Linked DNA regions of Homo sapiens: regions 1, 3 and 4 are each reported to be linked to region 2. The links are microRNA targets in miRTarBase. Many come from high-throughput screens and were not tested one by one. Region 2 holds a microRNA gene; each other region holds the end of a gene's coding sequence.

Region 1 (5,308 bases), not on the chromosome of region 2:
ACTGGAAATTGGCCCTTAAAGCTTCCTCTGAGTCTAGGAGAATACTACTCTAACACTGAAACCTTGGCTTCACTGAAAACAAAACAACAACAGTAAAAATACTGCTAAAGATGACTTTAGGAATTGCCGCTAAGGCCAAAGAAAAAGTCATTCACATAATAAATTCACTGTGCTCTCAACTATCAAGTGTTGTTGAGTTAAAGCATCTACTTCAGTGACTATGACAATAGATGATGGTATTAAGTTAAAAAAAAAAAAAAAAGGCAACACCAGTAAGTTCTTTTCTGACCACTTCATTCCACATATTTTATTTTTACTAGTCCAGTGTATTTTATTTTTACCAGAAGGGTGGGGGTGGGGGGTTGCTAAAAGACAGAACTCATCCCTTTTTCTGCCTAAAGACTCAGGAGCCATGAGAAAGAAAATGTATGTCTAGAGTCACTACCCTAGAAATCAACTCACTCAGCAATCTCAACCCTAGCTGCAATGTGGATGGGCAGGAATACAGCTGTGTTCCCATCCAGAAGGATAAGACTCTATAGCTGGGCAGCCGTGCAAAGTAAACAAGAACAATTAAAATAACACTGCAGGTTTGTTGTACTCACTGACTGTCCTTACAACAGTCAGGCTTTCAGTAGATAAACCAAGTTCACTCTTGCATATTATGAAGTAGTAAAATACTGCTTTTTATCTGTGTGTCCATGCAGATAAAAGCATCGCCCATAAAATCTTGTAGTTCCTGACTATATTTGTGGCTCTTACCATGTCTCTATGCTAGATATTTTTATAAACAACCAACAACTACATGAGGGCTGCTAACAAAAAATCTATAAGCACCTTTATATAGTCAGCAATTACAGACTCACCCTCTTCTACAGTCTGTGGCCATTAGTGTACACTCACCGTGTCCCTGCTGCCTCCACCACTCCACTGAGACTGCTCTTTTCCTAACATCACTTGGGCTCTCTTCAGTCTTCAACTGTGGTATGACAGGGTTGATCATTCTTTGATTCTTGACATTTTTCCCTTGGTTTCTACCACTCTCTTCTGGCTCTCCTACCTTGCTGCTCATGCCTTCTTAGGCAGTCTTCTTTGAGACTCTTAAATGATGGTGTACCTCACAACTCTCTTCTACCTTCTCATTTTACAAACCCCAGGGTGACCTTGTGAACCTTCAAATAAATAAGTGAACTCATAAATTTGTTTCTCAGTTAGAACCTTTCTGAAACTCTAGATTCACATATCCAATTGTATACTAAAAGGTTTCTCCACTTAAGAGACTCTTTCTACAACCACCTTAAAATCTTGACCAAAACTGAGGACATCCCCATCCAATCCTCCCAACCTAATTCCCCTGTATTCCCATCTGTCAATCTAATTCAATTACCCAAACCAAAATTCCCACTTACCTTAACCTCTTTGCCATGATCTTTTTCTGGTTGTTTATAAATTCCTATCAATTCAACTGTGTCAATTCTTCAATTTTATCTTTTCAATGTGTATCTGTCTCGTCTTCATCTCCACATCACAGCTTTAGTTCAGTGTTTCAACACTTTTCACACAAACGGCTCTTAATTATCATCTAAGTTCCAGATTCCTCAATTATAAACCCTACCTCATAGGACTGTCGTAATGATTACATAAAATAATGCAGGACTAAACACACAGGGTCTGACACATAGCAAACACTCAAATGTTAGGTATTAACTAATAATACTATTCTTAGAGAAATACCTAAATTGTAAAATTTGGGAGGCTATATCTTCAGTATAAACATGAAAATAAACTGGTTTCTCAGTAATAATAACATATAAACCAACCACCCAATATACCCTCTTCCACCTCCAGGTCACCTTGAAACCAAGTCAAAAGTAGTCAAAGTAGTATACTATTGTTTATGGAAATTGGACCTGTATTATGGGATTAACAGTTACTAGAGAGTCTACACTATATCCCAAAATTTCATTCTGTTTTTTTTTTTTTTTTTTAAATCATGGTACCTGTCAGGCAAACAATGAGACCAGGATTGACTAGAACAGTCTCAAGCCCAAAGGGAAATGACAGTATCAAAAGCTAGGGCCAGGTGCAGTGGCTCACACCTATAATCTCAGCACTTTGCGAGGCCGAGGCAGGTGGACCACGTGAGGTCAGGAGTTCAAGACCAGCCTGGCCAATGTGGTGAAACCCTGTTTCTACTAAAAAATACAAAAACAAATTAGCCGGCCGTGGTGGCAGGTGCCTGTAATCCCAGCTACTCTGGAGGCTGAGGCAGGAGAATCGCTTGAGCCTAGGAGGTGGAGGTTGCAGTGAGCTGAGGTCATGCCATTGCACTCCAGCCTGGGTGACAGAGTGAGCCTCTGTCTCAAAAAAAAAAAAAAAAAAAAAAAAAAGCTAGACCAGCTTGATGAATCACGGGGAAATATTTACCGTGCCCTATCATTCTACCCATACAAAATGTAGAGTCTTATACCACTCTAGAAAAAAAAATTTTTTTTTGAGGTGGAGTTTTTTGCTCTTTTTGCTCAGGCTGGAGTACAATGGTGCAATCTCTGCTCACTGCAATCTCCACCTCCCAGGTTCCAGCTATTGTCCTGCCTTAGCCTCCTGAGCAGCTGGGATTACAGGTGCATGCCACCAAAACCAGCTAATTTTTGTATTTTTAGTAGAGACGGGATTTCACCATATTGGTCAGGCTGGTCTCGAACTCCTGACCTCGTGATCCGCCCGCCTCAGCCTTCCAAAGTCCTGGGATTATAGGCGTGAGCCACCGCGCCTGGCCTAGAAATTGTAAAAGCAAAAATTTATAGGGAAATAAAATGTATACCTGTTAATTTAAGGCCCTAAATTTTAGCCAGTTTTCAACTGAGATATGATCATTTCAGCTCACAAAAATAACCTAAGTTGAACCACAGTGGTAATTCATTCTTGGGCTGTGGGCCCTTCATTTATTTGCAACATCATAAAAGTACTATGTTACTAAAATAATCAGAAAGGATTTTGCCTTTGGAAATAAAGTTCAGCTGATTTGCTGCTGACACAATGATCCTTTGGCAAACTGGTGGAAACTGCCTTTAGGAAGCCAATGTTTTAATCATATTTCAAGATATCAAACCAAAAAAACACCCTGAAAAAGCACAAATGACAACACACCATTATTCTCAGTTAGTACATTGGTCACTTAGAAAAAGCTATCAAGTATTTTATTATTTTTATTCTACATTATATACAGGTCATAAAAGGCCACAGCAGTTTTTCAACATATAAACCCTTTAAAAGTAGAGGGCACTATGAAGGATAGACAAGTATCAAAATGAAGTCCAGTAATGAGGGCATATACTCAGTGCAGTATTTCTGAGGAATAACAAAGCAGATACCGAGTCATCCATACTTTGCTTCCAAGTATTCTATACGTTTTTATAAACCTCTTTGAGATTTGTTAACAGCCTAGGTGTGCCAAGTTGCCATTTATTTTAAAAGTGAAACCAGAATGAAAGAATAATGAATCTAGGAGGGTACCTTTCCTAATGCTTGTCATTTACAGCTCTCCAAGAAGGAAAGCCTCAATTCTTTACCACTTTCTACTTCCTCCTTCCATCAAAGATAGGAAAGAGAAAAATCAGGAAAAAAAAGCTCAATATTCTAATTCTTCCTATTTAGCTGGAGCTTTCCTTTTCTATAGGGGTTTCTTCAAAGTATAGTTCAGGCCTTTTAAAAATTAGCTTCAAATTCCAAAACACTTAATATTGCACCCTCCTTGAACAATAACTAAAAAAATTGGTTTCCACTCTGTGAAAATACAATCTTTAAGCCTATCACTGGTATCAGCAGATCAATATAAAAAAATACAGTACCAAGCTACACTGGTATATTTCCATATTAAGAACTTCAAAATATACTTATCACTGAGACCATAGTCCTTGCATTAGTTTTCAGTCCACTATGAACAATTATCTGCTGCATGTAAACATGTCTAAATAACTATAGATAAAATACATCAATCATAAATTTCTGTAAAAGATAATAAAATATCTTCTTTAAAAAACAAAACAATAAGCTATTACTGCATTGTTTCCAATTTTATGAAAATGGAACAACCATATGGTTGTTGCCAGTCCTGAGTTCATTGTAATAAAAATGGCCCTAGTTCCTGGTTAAAGTCAGCAACCAATCCATTCTCTTCAATAGATGTCTTCTAGTGGTGTAGGCAAGAATTTGTTTTACGTGCTATTCTGTCCATTAATAAAATTATATACCAGAAATTGACCAGTGCCACAGTACTGTGTTGCAAACAGCTTTCCATCAGGAGTGGGATCTGAGAAAGCAATTTCTTCTTTGCTCAAATATGAGCCATATATAAAGTTACTCCTATTAAAAAAAAATGGGGGGGGGGAAGGGTTAAGTGTGAAATGTTAAAAAAAAAAAAATTCTAATCATTAAAACTGGAATAACCTGTCAAATACAATTTGACTAAAAAAGCTTTTTAGATACTGCTGTATGTGCTCAAAATTTTTGAAAATAATTATTCATCTATAATATCAATAACCTGAGGTTAAATTTTAATAAAAGCAACAATGTAAAAACATTTACCCAACATCTTTTCATGATAAAAATATTCAACTAAGAGTAGAAATATTTCCTCAACCTGATCAAAGACATCAAGGAATATCAGAGTTAATGGTGAATGACTGAAAACTGTTCCTCAAAGATCAGGAATAAGAGAAGACTACTCTCACCTCTTCTATTCAATATTGTATTGGAGGTTCTCGTCATGAGGAAAAGAAATAAAAATCATCCAGATTGGAAAGAAAGAAATAAAACTATCTCTTTTGCAGATGAAAAGGCCTTGTTTATAGAAAATCCTAAAAAATTCACAAAAACAAACAAAAAATCTAATAAACGAGTCTGGCAAGGCTGCATATTCAAGATTGATATTCAAAAGTAAACTGTTTCTATACACTTGTAATGAACAACCTAAAACTGAAATTTAGGGGGAAAAAAGTCCATTTATAATAACATCAAAAAAAATTAAATACTTGCCAGGCACAGTGTCTCACACCTGTAATCCCAGCATTTTGGGAGGCCAAGGTGAGAGGATTGCTTAAGCCCAAGAGTTCAAGGCCAGCCCAGGCGACATAGCAAGACTCCGACTGTACCAAAACAAATGAAATTTTTGCCAGGCACATGGCTATGGTCTCAGCTACTCAGGAGGCTGAGGCAGGAGGATTTCCTGAGCCCAGGATGTTGAGGATGAAGTGAGCTGTGTTTGCACCACTGCACTCCAGCCTGGGTGACAAAGTGAGATGCTGTC
Region 2 (5,308 bases):
AATTCAAGGTTCTCATCCTAGGGTTCATTGACATCCCAGGATGGGCTTGGGTGAAGTTGGACATAACACATTTGAATGTGAATTTTGCTAAACAGAAGTTCAGTACCTTTCAAATGTTTTTGTATGGCTATATGCCCCCATCCTTAAGAGTTAGAAAGCACCAATGCTGACCAAACTTTTTACTTTCTAGACAAAGAAAGATTATCCCAATAAACTATGACTTATGCAAAGCATAGGGCCAGTGTATTAGTCTGTTTTCACATTGCTGATAAAGACATAACCAATTCACAAAAGAAAGAGGTTTATTGGACTTACAGCCCCCACGGCTGGGGAGGCCTCACAATCGTGGCAGAAGGCAAGGAGGTGCAAGTCACATCTTACGTGGATGGCAGCAGGCAAAGAGAGAGCTTATGCAGAGAAATTCTGGTTTTTAAAATCATCAGATCTCGTGAGACCTATTCACTATCACGAGAACAACATGGGAAAGACCTGCCCCCATGATTCAATCATCTTCCACTGGGTCCCTCCCACAACACGTGGAAATTATGGAACTACAATATGAGATTTGGGTGGGGACACAGAGACAAGCCACATCAAGCTAGTTAGAGCCAGAACTGAGACATTAATCAAGGATGCCTAATTTTTCTAAGTTACTTTCAGACCAATCTCATTTATTGGTAGTACTTTCTTCCCTGCTTGCATGAGGGTGGGAGACAAATCTTGGCTCTCCAAACAGCCAGACCCCAGACTCTGTGTTTGACCTTGTGCAATAGATTTGTTTCTTTAAGCCTGGATTGGCTGGGCACGGTGGCTCATGCCTGTAATCCCAGCACTTTGGGAGGCCAAGGTGAGTGGATCACCTGAGGTCAGGAGTTCAAGACCAGCCTGCCCAACATGGCAAAACCCCATCTCTACTAAAAATACAAAAAATTAGCCTGGTATGGTGGTGCATGCCTGTAACCCCAGCTACTCAGGAGGCTGAGGCAGGAGAATTGCTTGAACCCAGGAGGCGGAGGTTGCAGTGAGCCGAGATCACACCACTGCACTCCAGCCTGGGTGACAAGAGCCAAACTCTGTCCAAAAATAACAATAATAAAAAAAAGCCTGAGTTTACAAATCTATAGAAGGAAATTTAAAATATGATCTCTGTTCCCATCAAATTTCTTTGTTTCAAGTGATATAAACTAACTATGGCTGATTAGACAGTAGGGAATTTATTGCAAGGGTATGAGAAAGCACGTAGAAAAGGCTTCTTTGTGGCTCAACTCCACAACACTGTATTTTATGTTTATGAAAACATTGGGAAGGCTGAACTACCAGACTCAGAAATGGCATAAAGAAGGGGTGCAGGTAACAGCCTGAGCCACAGCCAAAATGATGCCACAATGTGAGTGAGGTGGAGACTCTATCACTCCACCTGACTGTTGCTGACACTGAATACTGAGGCTTATCTGTTATTGCTACTGAACTTAAACATTTAATGTCACCACCACAGCCTCTGTAAACCCTGGAAGCTGATGTTGAAGCCACCTCTGCAACCATTAAAGGAGAAATAAATTCTCTGCTTTCCTGATTTTTGCATCTCTCAATGCAAATTTAAAGTCTGAGGCAGGTACCTCTGTTTGGCTGAGTATAGGTGATGTGTTCATACCTTAGCTGCAGGGTAGCCTGGGACAAGAATTTTTTTGACTTCCATACTGGGAAATTCAAGCAAAATTCATATTATTAGAAATTTCTCAAATGTAAGAAATGGGTTCAAAGGCTGAACTCAGCCATTCAAAGGCTGAAACCTCTCAAATAAAACTAACATGGATCTACTACTCCATCCCATTAGGTTGGCGTGAGGATTAAATAGATAATAATAGATAGAGTGTCTAGGAAATAATAAGGACTCAATGTTCATTTTCATCATCATTGTATTACTCTTGTAAGAGTCAGCTTATCTTCATGGTATGCCAGTTGTCTGTAATACCTATAGCTGAGAAAAGTGAAATAAGGATTTGAAGTGTTTTTATTTCACATAATGGGAAAATGTAGGGAAAATTAAGGAAATGAGGAGTAATGCCAGAAGAGATGAAAGTGAAAAGACTGACAGACAGAGTCAGATAAGGAAAGTAAATGGGCATTAGATTAGTTGCAGAATTACTGACTCCTGTGAAGGAATGGATTGTCCAGGGAAAAGAAGCTAGCCAAGAAATGGAGACCTGGGAATGAGATCCATGCTACTCCGAGCTCTAATCCTAGGGCTGAATCTCCCAATCTAGGGTGCCCATACAAAAAGAACACAATAATTAAAGACAAATAAGGAATAGAAATATTCTGGGTCTTTTTGGAATTAAAACCTTATAGCTTGCATCTGTTTGGTAGTGGTGATTGTAGTGGTGGTCCTAGTGGTGTGTGTATGTGTGCAAGTTCATTTTGTTTTGTTTTAAACTTACAGAACAGAATTGAGATTTGGATTTTAAGGGAATTTTGATATTTCATTTTGACAGCTCTCCTTCTGACACTTCATTCTTCTTCTTCTCGCACCCAAACACACACAGGCATACAAACCTCTTTGGGATTGGCTGCAGAAACAGTGCCTCCCAGAGTATTCCCATTCATCTCATTTGTGCTTAGCTGACCTCTAATACCTAGAGGAGAACTGTAGTGCAAACATCAAGAAAATAATAATGTAATTCTAGAATAATATCCCTAAGACTTATAAATATGAAGCAAATATAAGAACCCTTTTTTCAGTGGACAAGAATTGCTTGTCTATTCATCACATCCTTTTTTTGTTTGGAAAGTGTCTCCTCTCTCTCTCCATGTTGACTCTAGAAGGACTATAAGCCACATATTCAACTCTGCAAAGGAAGAAGAGGGCTTCACTTCTTCTTACCTCTTCTTCCTTTACAGAATTGGACATGTGATTTACACTGACCAGTCAGTTTACCTTATATGTCTTAATGCCTGTGATTAGTCCAGAGAGAAATACATGAAGTAGGGATAACCAATCCAAACACTGCTTTGGAGTTTGATTGTTGGGATAAAGTCTCTCTTGAGTTCACAAAGCTTCAGGATCATGTATTCATGTGGCAAGCACCAGGATGCTCTCACCACCTTATGGAAAAAGCTTGCCTGAAGCTGAACAAAGGCAAATGGAGCTCAACATACCTCTGAACAATCTGAGCCAACAACTTCTCCTTTTGACTTCAGCTACTTTAAGTTGAGGTTTTATTACTTGGTGTATTAGTCTGTTCTCACACTGCTATAAAGAACTACCTGAGTATGGGTAGTTTATAAAGAGGGATTTAATTGACTCACAGCTCCACAGGTTGTATAGAAGACATGGCAGGGGAGGCCTCAGGAAACTTACAATCATGGAGGCAGGGCAAATGGGAAGCAAGCACATCTTTACATGGCAGCAGGAGAGAGAGAGCAAAGAGGGAAGTGCTACACACTCTTAAACAACCAGATCTCATGATAACTCACTATCACAAGAACAGCATGGGAAAAATCTACCCCCATAATCCAATCACCTCTTACCGGGTCCCTCCCCCAACACTGGGGGTTACAATTCAACATGAGATTTGGGTGGGGACACAGAGCCAAATCATATCACTTGGAAGTTGAGAATTTTATATCTCATACTTCCCCGCCCCAAGAAAAAAATAATTTCATACCCCCTTAGTGATATGAGTTGAACTTTTAGTATGACTTAAGAAAACATACTGACAAAAATGGCCAATAATCTCAGTAAAGCTTTTAAAATATTATTTACTCAGACTCTAGAGAATGCTTGCACAACAAGTAGATTAATAGACACCTAACAATAACTTATTGGTCCCCCCATCCAAGGTTAAAAATCATTGTTTATAAGTGCTTATGCTTTCAAAACAATACTGAGAAAAATGCACTTCTGAGTGTTATCATATTTTGAAGACTATAAACCCTTCATCCACTTTTGAAAAGAGGATGATATTGAAAAAGCCATTTGATAAGCTTTTATATCCAAAGAAACAAAGAAGCAGTTTGCTTCGAAGACTCCAGGGACACAAGGCCACCACCTGTGAGGACACAGGAGCCACCTATGAGCCATGAAAGTTTGGAAACTTGCCTGGGAAGTTCATCAGGGTCACCACCAGAGGAAATCATTGATATTCATGGAGAATTGGATGCTCAGCAGTGCAGTGGCATATAGGTCACACACAAGACAAAAACTGTTTCTGAGGTTTGAATGCAATGCCATTAGTGAGCCGTTACTGATATGTTTGACACTGTATCAGAAAATTTTACCAAAGCTCCCTTTTCTACTAAAAGCAACTGAGGGGAAAAGAAAATGGTAGAAAACCAAAAATAAAAGCAACTATTTCCCGGGAAGACCAATGAAGCCCTTCAAAAAGCTGACTGGATTGTATTAAACTGCTAAGGTTTGAATGCATCTCCCCAGAGTTCATGTGTTGGAAACTTAATCCCCAATGCAACAGCATCGAGAGGTGGCACTTTTGAGAGGTGATTAGGTCATGAGAGCTTTGCCCCCTGGAATGGATTAATGTCATTATGGCAGGGGTAAGTTCATGATGTCAGGAATGGGTTTGTTATAAAAGCAAGTTTGGCCCTCTCTTGCTTGCTGGCTCTCATCCATTCTCTCTTCATGTGATGTCTTCTGCCAGGTTATGACTCAGCAAGAAGACCCCCACTAGATGCAACCCCTTGATCTTGGACTTCCTGGCCTCCAGAAACATAAGACAAATAAACTTCTTTTTATTGTTATTATCATTAATTTTTTATTTTTTATTTCAATAAGTTTTGGGGAACAGATGGTATTTTGTTACATGAATATGCTCATTAGTGGGGATTTCTGAGATTTTGTTGCACCCATCACTCAAGCATTGTATACTGTACCCAATGTGTAGTCTTTTATCCCTCCCTCTCCCCCACTCTTTCCTTTGAGTCTCCAAACTCCAATATATCATTCTTATGCCTTTGCATTCTCATAGCTTAGTTCCCACATATGAGTGAGAACATGTATGTTTGGTTATCTATTCCTGAGTTACTTCACTTAGAATAATAGCCTCCAATTCCATCCAGGTTGCTGCAAATCCCATTATTTCATTCCTTTCTTTGGCTGAGCAGTATTCCATGGTATATGTGTGTGTGTGTGTGTGTGTGTGTGTATGTGTGTGTGTGTGTATATGTATATGTATATATACACACACATATATGTATGTATATAACATTTTTTATCCACTCATTGATTGATGGGCATTTGGGCAATTGTACTGCTATATACATGCATGTAACAAGTGTCTTTTTTGTATAATGA
Region 3 (5,308 bases), not on the chromosome of region 2:
GAGGTGAAATTATGAAAATAGGATGAATTAGAGTGGAACCTCAGGGAGATAAGCCAGGTTGCACCCTTGTTAATCGGGATATGGATGGGGAATGATGGCTTGGATTATAATGCAGGAAACATTTCTTAAGGCCTACTCTGTACTGGCTGTTATTGGCCTGTTTATGAATGGAAAGAAATATAGCAGAATGAATCAGGGAAGAGTCACAGGATCTGAGGTTAGAGAAGTGTATGGAGAGCAAGCGGATCAAGCCTTGCAAGCCAGGTTGTTTATGGTTAATATCAGACTTGTATAAAATTTGTATTGTCTTTCATTTTTTCAGATTTTGAAATCGGAAGTAGCATCAAGGAGGATCCAACACAGATAGTATATAAGGACATGGAACAGCATAGGGCATTAATAGAAAAGTCTAAAAGAGTTGTTTCCCAGAGTACCGACCCCAGCAAATATCGCAAAAGGGAATGCATCTCAGGAAGACAATGGGAAAATCTTCAAGGAATTAGACAGGGAAAGCCGATGTCTCAGCCTAGAGATTTAGGGAAAGCCGTTGTGCATCAGAGGCCTTTTGTGGGGAAGAGACCCTACAGACTTCTCAAATATGGAGAAAGCTTTGGAAGGAGCACTCGTCTGATGTGCCGGATGACCCACCACAAGGAGAATCCTTACAAGTGTGGTGTCTGTGGGAAGTGCTTTGGTAGAAGCAGGAGCCTGATCAGACACCAAAGAATCCACACAGGCGAAAAACCTTTTAAATGTCTTGACTGTGGAAAAAGCTTTAATGACTCCTCAAATTTTGGTGCCCACCAGAGAATCCACACAGGAGAGAAACCCTACAGATGCGGAGAGTGTGGAAAATGCTTTAGTCAGAGCTCTAGTCTTATTATACATCAGAGAACGCACACCGGTGAGAAGCCCTATCAGTGTGGAGAGTGTGGGAAAAGTTTCACCAACAGTTCTCATTTCAGCGCCCACCGGAGAGTTCACACTGGGGAGAATCCCTACAAATGTGTGGACTGTGAAAAAAGTTTCAATAACTGTACGAGATTTCGAGAACATCGGAGAATACACACTGGAGAGAAGCCCTATGGATGTGCCCAGTGTGGCAAACGTTTCAGTAAGAGTTCTGTTCTTACCAAACATCGGGAAGTTCATGTGAGAGAAAAGCCTCTGCCACACCCTCCATCTCTGTATTGCCCTGAGAACCCACATAAGGGAAAGACTGATGAATTTAGGAAAACTTTTTGATGATGATCTTCTCTTCCTAAATGCCCCCTTAGCCATTTTACCCTAATCTCATTCTTGGAAGCAATCTTTTCTTAGCTATGAAGTGTAATTTCCAAGATAAACTTGAGAATATAAATAAACTAAACACTTTCATCCTGTTCTCACCTCTGCCTCTAACTTCATCAGTCTGTTCCTCCTCTTCTGTGTGTCTCAGCTTCTCCTTTAAGAATGTGGCGAAGATACATTGTCCGAGTTCAGAATGAAATACCCTTCAGTACATTGAGGCCACTGCAACTGGATTGCTAAGTTCGGCAACATTCAAGATCTTCCATATGGGTGAGAGTTGTCTTCAAGGATATAAAAAATGCCAAAAGTTTTTTTGTTGTTATTACCTACTCCGTGAGATCCTGGATGAAACTTGATAACAGATTTTCACATTTAGATAGAACTTTGAGGAGTCTGATCGGAACTACATCAAATCCATCTTGGTTTTGAAGAGATCCACAAAAGAAGAGTGAAGATTTTATAGCTTTCCTCAGAAGTCTGTTACAGTGTACCTTTTTTTTTTTTTTTGTCAAGAAGTTGATCCAAATAGCTAGGGCAGAATCCCTGTATTGTCACTGAAATCCTGTTACTAATGCCTTGCCCTCCATGGAGGTGAGAAGCAATTGATCACCCCTCATCCTTTTCTGTACCCGAAGACTTAAATCCCCTGGCTGCTGCTTCTCCAGCCTATAAGTAATCCCAGGTCCTCCTACTGTTTCTCATAGCCCTGCACTTGCCTCTCAGTTGCTCTGGGTGCTCCTGCCGGCCTCTTCCGAACTACCATGCCCTCCTCAGATAGAATAGGAGGCCTGCTCGTGGTGTGTCTCACTAAAGCAAAGTAGGATTTCAGATGCGTTCTAGTTCTATCCTCTAACTTCTCTGGCTCTTATCTAGAACATGACTGGCATGTTGGCATATTTCGTACCTCCCACCCCTGCACTGCAGTATAATATTATAATAGTGTTTCTAAAACTTTAAGGGGATAGGGAAGAGGTAATAGACACCTGAAGCATTTCTAAGACCAGTTGGACTCCTTTGGCCTGCTGTCGATCAGATAGCCACCTCAGCTTAGACCAGCGCTCTCAGGTCTGGCTGTTAAATCTCCCAGTCTCTTTTCCTGAGGCTTCTAGTCCCTGTTCACCGCATCAGAAACCTAACTGTAGTGTGCCAAGTAACTTAACACAACTCTAGAGCTCACTGGGTGAAAAGTGGGAACATTTATAAAAACTTCAATCCAGAAATCCAGAACACCGTTTTTGTTTTCCTCATTTACTTGTTTTGTCTGAAAAATCTCTTTGAGAACCCCCGGCAGTAACCCAGTAAACACTGAAGGAAAAGTTCTGATGGGGGATGGTTAATTGACTTTTGAAGTTACAGATGAAACCCAGAGATTTGATTTTCCATGGCCAGTTGCTTCAGGATGGAGTCAGTGGCGTTTATTCCCTTAGTATGTAGGTGACCCAGGGTGGCTTTGCTTTGGCAAGGGAGAAGTCACAAGTTTAATGGGAAGGGAACCGGAGTTAGGGCTGTTTGTGGGTGATTATTTTGCTCTTCTCTCTCCCTTTCTTTGTCAAATGCTCTTATTTGAAGCCATCTGGAAATGATATTTTTCCTTTTGGTATGTTTCAATCTTTTGAAACTTGTTCAGCAAAGTACCTAGGAGGGTAGGCACTGTAGAAAGAAATCTAATTTATGGTGCCAGAATAGGGTGTGGCCTGTTGGAAGGCAGGTGACTCAGGTAGACATTGATAAATGTTTCTGATTTACATTTGTTGGAAATATTATGACTGTTCACATCTCAATAGGTTGATTTTTCTGTGTTGTCCAAGTTATAGATTTCTAATGCTAAGTACAGTTCCATGTTGGTAGTGTGCGTAGCACAGTAAGATGTTTGTGGTGCCAGTGGGCTTGTGTTTATATTGTGTAGATGTTCTGGAATTCCAGCTCTAGAGAAGATGTAAATTAATAGAAATCACCACTTAATAATATGTACACAGGATTGATATTATGTGGAAGCATGATTCAGGAAAGTAGATGACTTATTCATAAATATGAAGCACTGTTACATGTAAGGCCATGTTCTAGCCACAGTGAATGATAGAAAAAGGAAGGAAGGGGCATGGTGCCTGGGCTCAAGGAACTCACAGTTTGATAGAGGAAGCATCACAGCAAAAGTTGGGGCCACTTACACCATGGCAGTTACAGAAGGCCAGGAGCTCAGTCATGAGAACATCACCTTCCCCTGCAGAAGAGTTGCGCTAAGTTGCCCAGAATCATATTCTGTACCTTCATCTCTCAACCTTCCCCAGTGGCAGGAAAGGGTCAAGCAAGACCCATTCCCTCTCTAGTGGGACAAACTGATTCTGTTTAACTCTCATATGCCTGGGAGCAAGCTGAGGTGGAATTTGGGTTCCCCTATCTCTACTCCTAATTGTAAATGGGCTGTCTAGACATGTGTTACATTAATTTGATGAACTTTGTTCTGAAGAAATGGAAGGTCTCCCCCCCATTTTAGACCAACACTACCTGTCTCCCTGCATTTTATTTGTTTTCACCTGGTACATGTAAGTCAAAATGAATAATCATGTTCTGACCAATGTGTCTTTTAGATCACATAACATTGCCTTTATGAAGATTCATAGAAAAAGGTTTTTTTATCTAGATCTCAGTGCCAAGGAAAGCTCTGATCCTAAGCGCAGTATGTGTACACACACACGTCTACATGTGTGTGTAGATCTGTATGTATGTATTACAAACACTGTGATTTTTGTAACTTAAGCTGCTTTTTCTCTCTTTGTTCTGGCTGCTGGAAAGTTCAACAAAACTTACAGCCCACCTCAACCAACTACCCCAACCTATATTTATTTAATTTCATCTTATTTCCTTGTAAATTGTGTCAAATCCTGTTTTTGAAAAGCAGCATAGACTGACAACTTTTCACTATCATCTTATCGAAGGCATTTTGGAAACTGGGGTCGTATGTCCCACCTAGGCTTGCTTTGTTACTGCCACAAATACCTCCAGTTCTTACCAGTGATGTTATTATGCATTCAACCTAATTCATTCATCTGGAAAGAAACAGTTTTTTAAAAAGGGAAACCTCACACGTAAATGGCTCAGGGCAGCCTGGCCTTGGTGGAATGAGCATGAGACTGGAAGCTGAAAGAAGCAAGTTTTAATCTTGTCACTAAATGAGTGTTGTTTGACACATCATAGCCTCTCTGGGCCTCGGCTCCTCATCTGAAGAGAAGTTGAACTTAACTGCTAAGTTGCTCTGGCTCTAATGTTTCATGAGGCTGTGGAGCGTGATATAGATGCGGAAGAGGTTAGAAGACCAGGCTGCCGGCCCAGCTGTCCTGTGCCTGCCACATCTGGCCATACCAAATCCATCGCATGCTTCAGGAAAGGGAGGGGATGCTGTGACAGCAAACTCAGCCCAGGAGCTTGTTGGGGAAGGAGAAAGGGCAAGTCCCTCGTGGTCCACAGCAGGCACCCCCCAAGCACCTCGATAACCAGTGGCAGGTAGGCTGAAGTGAAGGAAGCCTCTGTCAGGAGGTCTGGCGCCCAGTGACAGACAAGACAGCTGTGAGGGAGCTGGGGCAGCCCTGGCTAAAGGAATGTCTGAGTAACTTGTGAAACTGGAAGCCTCTGCCTCTGAATGCATTCCAAGACCTGGTGCAAATGGATGTCCATTCATTGTTTTGTATCAGTGTTCACTTAGATGTCTTCTTGAAAACTTGTTTGTGGAATAAATGTCTAAAATAAATGGCTCCCACTGGTTTCTGCCATAATTTGAAGGGCGTCATTCTATTAAGAGAAAATATAATGTACCAAGAAGTTGATAAAAGCTGATCTTACCAGCCAATGAAAAGAATTCCAGTCTCATTCTAGTTCAGTGTTGTCCCCCACAAGTAGCAGGGGTCTTTTGTGAGTCCACAGCTGTGTGCAGCCGTCCTCTGGTGGTTGTCCCTGCCATTGTCCCAGTAATGGTCATCTCCAGTGCTAGGAGGGAATTAGCCTTGGATACACGTGCTGCCTG
Region 4 (5,308 bases), not on the chromosome of region 2:
CAGTCTTTCTTCGTCTTTCATGTCCATGATGTTTTGAAAAGTATAGGCAGGTTATTTTGTAGAAGGTCGTGCAAGCATTTTTTGATTGATAGCTCATCTAGGTTCAGCTCTTCTGGAGAAAAGAAGAAGAAATCAATGTATCTCCTCAAAAATTTGGAATTTTTTTTTTTTGAGGTGGACTGCCACTGTGTCCCCCAGGCTGGAGTGCAGTGGCACCATCTCGGCTCACTCACTGCAACCTCCGCCTCCCATGTTCAAGCGATTCTTGTGCCTCATTCTCCTGAGTAGCTGGGATTACAGGCATGCACCACCACACCCAGCTGATTTTTTTTTTTTTTTTCAGTAGAGATGGGGTTTCACCATGTTAGTCAGGCTAGTTTCCAACTCTAGACCTCAAATGATCATCCCTCCTTAGCCTCCCAAAGTTCTAGGATTACAGCCGTGAGTCACCACACCCGGCCAAAAATTTGTATCTTAAGAGCTTTATCTTAACTCCAGCAAGATGTCTTACCTAGGACTCAACAGGTTTTTGTTGTTGTTTTATGATATTTCTCAATGTGGGCACTATTGGCATTTTTGACAGGACAGTTCTTCACTATGCCAGACTGTTCCACCCATTACAGAAGGTTTAGCATCCCTGGCTCCTGCCCACTAAATTCCAGTAGCATTCTCCAGTTGATATGACCACACAAAACACCCTCTTTTAAGAACAATTGTTATTTAAAATTTAGAATCTTTAAATTAGGAGACCAGTCTTGCTTTTCATATAGTAGATAGTATAAGCAAAATTTCCAGTTGTTTTCATTATCAGTAATTGGTAATTAAATGACCAATAATAGAAGTTTTAGCTGAATTCTCTTCAGTTATTTGATTTGCTATATTTAATGATAAAGGGTTAAGTGGATCATATATGTTTTTATATAATCTGAAATGAGAATGCTATTAATTCTAATTAGAGTCAAGGATGCCACCTTAGATATCAACTGAAATAAAATATCCCTGGAAGATTTATCTTAAAACTGGATATTTTACTATTTTAAATTTTAGGGGGAAATGAGTGTCCTTGCATTTAATTCTAATTTTAGTGATGTTAATTATTCTCTTTTTTTTTTTTCTTTCAGAACTGGTCCCTAGGAAAGACCTTCTTGTAGAAAATGTGCCATATTGTGATGCACCAACTCAGAAGCAATGAGTTTTCTAGAATACAACAAGTCTTTGTACTTTTTAACTTTAAAATCTACAACTCTGGCAAAAGTCCTGGAAATGCAGACATTTTCCCTGAACTGGCATATTGAAAATGAATGAATTACAGAATAGCTTCATATTTAAATTTCATGTTAAAAGGTCATTACTGAGAACTAAAGAACATAATTAAGTATTTCTAAAGGAAATTAGATAAGAAAACATTTCATTTTCATTGAAAATCAAATTTCATAAAGCAAAGTAAATGCTTAGGGAGATATATTCAATCTTTGACCTTGATGAGTATTTGATCTTACCATAGCTATTTGAGAATGTGGTGCTTTTACAAATTGGTGAGTTTTCCTGCCATGTGAAATGCAATTATTACATTTAAATTGTTAGATTAAAATGATATTTAGTCCTGAAAAATATTAAATTGGTCAAAAAAATCACAGTGTATGCCAGCTCTCTACAGAAAGTGGCCTTTGTTTTCTAAAGCACTGGGATTATTTCTGTAGCTAATATATAATTGTACAGTTTCTTTTTAGAGATAGAGAGTATCTCTGTGTTCTTATGAAGACATTTTTTATCAGTTTTCTGAAAATAGATGAATAAAATATTATAGTCACCTAGGGTCACTATGGAATAAAGAAATCCTAGTTTAAAGAGGAAATAGTGGCCCTTGATCAAACTATTTAATATGGCCTTAGTAGAATTAGCTGTATTTAGACAAAGTTAGACTTTAGTGTGAAATGTAATCGGTGGCTACATTCTCATCGTTTTAATTAATGAAACTTAAATGGCTTCTCTTCTTCCACATGTCCTGTCCTTGACAAGATGGGCAGTATCACAAAAGGTCCTGGCATTCTACCATCTAACACTAGGAACTGTAAAATACTGTTTAATATTCTTCTTGTTTCTCTTTTATCTGTGTATCTTTGCCATTCTATTTTCTCAGTGAATAGTATGTTTTCTCCCATTCACTGATAAATTCTCTCATTTGATGATGATACAGGGTTTTTAATTTTTGCAAGATTCTCAATGCAAGCATTGTTATGTATCTAGAAATTATACCTAGAGAAAAATGAAAGTCGTTTCAAATTTGAAATTTGCCCTTTTAAGAGAATGCTGAATGTCATCGCAGTATATAATCACTATATAAATGTGCTGACTTACAGTTATTTTAGTGTCTATATGACATATTTTGAGGAAAGTTGGCTGACGTTATTTAAATTTAATATATATTCTATATTTTAGTGTTATTGAATATTTTATCACTGAGCTTTTTTCTTTAACCTGAATTCCCTGTTCCATTTTTCATTCATATTAATTTAAATAACTCCAGATTTCTTTCTTATAGTCATTATTAGTAGCAGATGAGATTAATAATTCACATGTTTATTAAAGATAGTGGCTTAGAAATTTTAAGATATATTGATATAGGCCCGGGCGCTGTGGCTCACACCTGTAATCCCGCACTTTGGGAGGCTGAGGCGGGCAGATCACAAGGTCAGGAGTTCGAGACCAGCCTGGCCAATGTGGTGAAACCCCATCTCTACTAAAAACACAAAAATTAGCCAGGTATGGTGGCGGGCGCCTGTAGTCCCAGCTACTCGGGAGGCTGAGGCAGGAAAATCACTTGAACCCGGGAGGTGGAGGTTGCAGTGAACTGAGATTGTGCCACTGCACTCCAGCCTGGGGGACAGAGTGAGACTCTGTCTCAAAAAAAAAAAAGAAAAAAAAAGGAAAAAGGAAAAAAAAAAGATATATTGATACAGATAGGTAGATATGATATTGTACTTTCATGCCATAAGACTACACAATAAAGTTCCTGAAAGTTCCTGGCTGGGCGCAGTGGCTCACGCCTGTAATCCCAGCACTTTGGGAGGCCGAGGCAGGCAGATCACCTGAGGTCAGGAGTTCTAGACCAGCCTGACCAACATGGGGAAACCCTGTCTCTACTAAAAAAAATACAGAATTAGCCAGGTGTGGTGGCACATGTCTGTAATCCCAGCTACTCGGGAGACTGAGGCAGGAGAATTGCTTGAACCCAGGAGACGGAGGTTGCAGTGAGCCGAGATCGCACCATTGCACTCCAGCCTAGGCAACAAGAGTGAAACTCCGTCTCAAAAATAAATAAATAAATAAAGTTCCTGTGAAGTATATAAACATGTCAACAACAGGCTTGACTGTCACAAAATTCTGAAAGATGTCGCACTCTATTCTTATATAGCATATGCTAATTTATTTATTTATTTTTTGAGATTGAGTTCTGCTGTGTCACCCAGGTTGGAGTGCAGTGGCATGGTCATGGTCCACTAAAGCCTTGACCCCTGGGGCTCAGCAGTTATGCCAACTAAGCCTCCCAAATAGCTGAGACTAGAGGTATGCGCCACCACACCTAGCTATTTTTTTTATTTTTAGTAAGGACAAGGTCTCATTATGTTGGCCAGGCTGGTCTCAAATTCCTGAGCTCAGTTGATCCTCCCACCTCAGCCTCCCAAAGTGCTGGGATTACAGGTGTAAGCCACTGCACCCTGCCTATTCTTATAATCATATATTTATATTTCAAATGGATTTTAACTGGTTATTTAATAGTTTAATTAGATAAAGTAATTCATGGCTGGGTGTGGTGGCTCACGCCTGTAATCCCAGCACTTTGGCAGGCTGAGGCAGGTGGATTACCTGAGGTCGGAAGTTCGAGACCAGCCCAACCAACGTGGAGAAACCCCATCTCTATTAAAAATGCAAAATTAGCAGGACATGGTGATACACACCTGTAATCCCAGCTAGTCAGGAGGCTGAGGCAGGAGAATTACTTGAGCCAGGGAAGCAGAGGTTGTGGTGAGCTAAGATTGTGCCACTGCACTCCAGCCTGAGAGAACAAGACTCCGTCTCAAAAAAAGAAAAAAAGAAAACTTTTTTACACATGGGTATCTCACCATGTTGCCCAGGCTGGAGTGCAGTAGCTATTCATAGGCACAGTCATAGCACACTGCAGCCTAGAATTTCTGACCTCAAGCAATCATCCTGCCTCAGCCTCCTAAGTAGCTAGGACTACAGGTGCATACCACCATAACCAGCTTTAATTAAATGTTTTTTATTTGGTTATTTTTTTTAAGTTTTCTGTATTCACACAAGGGGTTGCCCAAATATAATTTTGCTTTGACTATTGAGATCTAGTGAAAGTGGGGTATATGAATTCTAATTGCAAATATCCAGGCTCAGAGGCCCAGCAGGACTTTCTAACACAATCTTTTAGCGGAAGTTAGAAATGGTATATAGCAGGAGAGTCAGATTTGAGAAGCATATGTAGATTCGAAGCTGGGGGAATATGGCAGGTAGTTTGTACAACATCTAATTCAGAACATTAAAATTAAGATTTTAGTCAAACTGTGTTTAAGTTAGTTCTTATTTTCCTGTAGATGCATCTCACAGCATCAGTACAATACCAAAAAAGCACACAAGAATAAGAATATGTGGAATTTCTATACCTATTGACAAAGCACATAATTTAACCATAAACACAAAGCCATAGGTCAACAAAGAAATGAAGATTCCAGTTCTGAAGGTGAGTTTTCTGAAGCCAAAGTGGATACATGCAAAATTAATATAGTTTTACTGTATATCAGTTGTCACCAATCAGAAATGGAAAACAGATCCTATTTATAATTGCAAACAAAACTGTAAAATAGACTTTTTAAAGTCTGGGAATAGACTTCTAAAATAAGCTATAACACTTAAAAAGGAGAGATATACTATGTTCCTAGATAGGACAATTGAAAATTCTGGAGATGACAGTTTTTCAAAAATCTATTGAGGCCAGGTGCAGTGGCCCATGCCTGTAGTTCCAGTACTTTGGGAGGCCTAGGTGGGTGGATCACCTGAGGTTGGGAGTTTGAGACCAGCCTGACCAACATGGAGAAACCCCGTCTCTACTAAAAATACAAAATTAGCCAGGCGTGGTGGTGCATGCCTGTAATCCCAGCTACTCGGGAGGCTGAGGCGTGAGAATCGCTTGAACCCGGTAGGCAGATGTTGCAGTGAGCCGAGATCGCACCATTGCACTCCAGCCTAGGCAACAAGAGCGAAACTCCATCTCAAAAATAGAAAAAACATTTATCGA

What was found. The annotated mature microRNA hsa-miR-4778-5p reads AAUUCUGUAAAGGAAGAAGAGG and lies in region 2 at 2,881-2,902, opposite strand. An mRNA with a match to its seed (bases 2 to 7 or 8) in the 3' UTR can be bound and repressed. Matches are read on the target gene's strand: a 7mer-m8 pairs with bases 2 to 8, a 7mer-A1 pairs with bases 2 to 7 and ends in A, and an 8mer does both.
Region 1: miRTarBase lists ESCO1 as a target of hsa-miR-4778-5p. The part of its 3' UTR that is shown has no 7-base or 8-base seed match.
Region 3: the mRNA of ZKSCAN2 is a reported target of hsa-miR-4778-5p. Seed matches in the 3' UTR shown: 7mer-A1 at 2,969-2,975.
Region 4: the mRNA of LYRM7 is a reported target of hsa-miR-4778-5p. Seed matches in the 3' UTR shown: 8mer at 1,309-1,316 and 7mer-m8 at 3,155-3,161.

What each region holds. Positions count from the first base shown.
Region 1 is chr18:21,526,126-21,531,433 of GRCh38, forward strand. It overlaps ESCO1 (establishment of sister chromatid cohesion N-acetyltransferase 1), which reads right to left. Exons shown (of 12, transcript NM_052911.3): 12 at 3,159-4,365. The coding sequence ends at 4,218. Among named protein-coding and RNA genes, the nearest start is that of ESCO1, 72 kb to the right of the region's middle.
Region 2 is chr2:66,355,417-66,360,724 of GRCh38, forward strand. It overlaps MIR4778 (microRNA 4778), which reads right to left and starts at 2,912; the gene lies at 2,833-2,912.
Region 3 is chr16:25,235,753-25,241,060 of GRCh38, reverse strand. It overlaps ZKSCAN2 (zinc finger with KRAB and SCAN domains 2), which reads left to right. Exons shown (of 7, transcript NM_001012981.5): 7 at 323-5,060. The coding sequence ends at 1,245. Among named protein-coding and RNA genes, the nearest start is that of ZKSCAN2-DT, 19 kb to the left of the region's middle.
Region 4 is chr5:131,198,410-131,203,717 of GRCh38, forward strand. It overlaps LYRM7 (LYR motif containing 7), which reads left to right. Exons shown (of 5, transcript NM_181705.4): 5 at 1,122-5,308. The coding sequence ends at 1,192. Among named protein-coding and RNA genes, the nearest start is that of LYRM7, 30 kb to the left of the region's middle.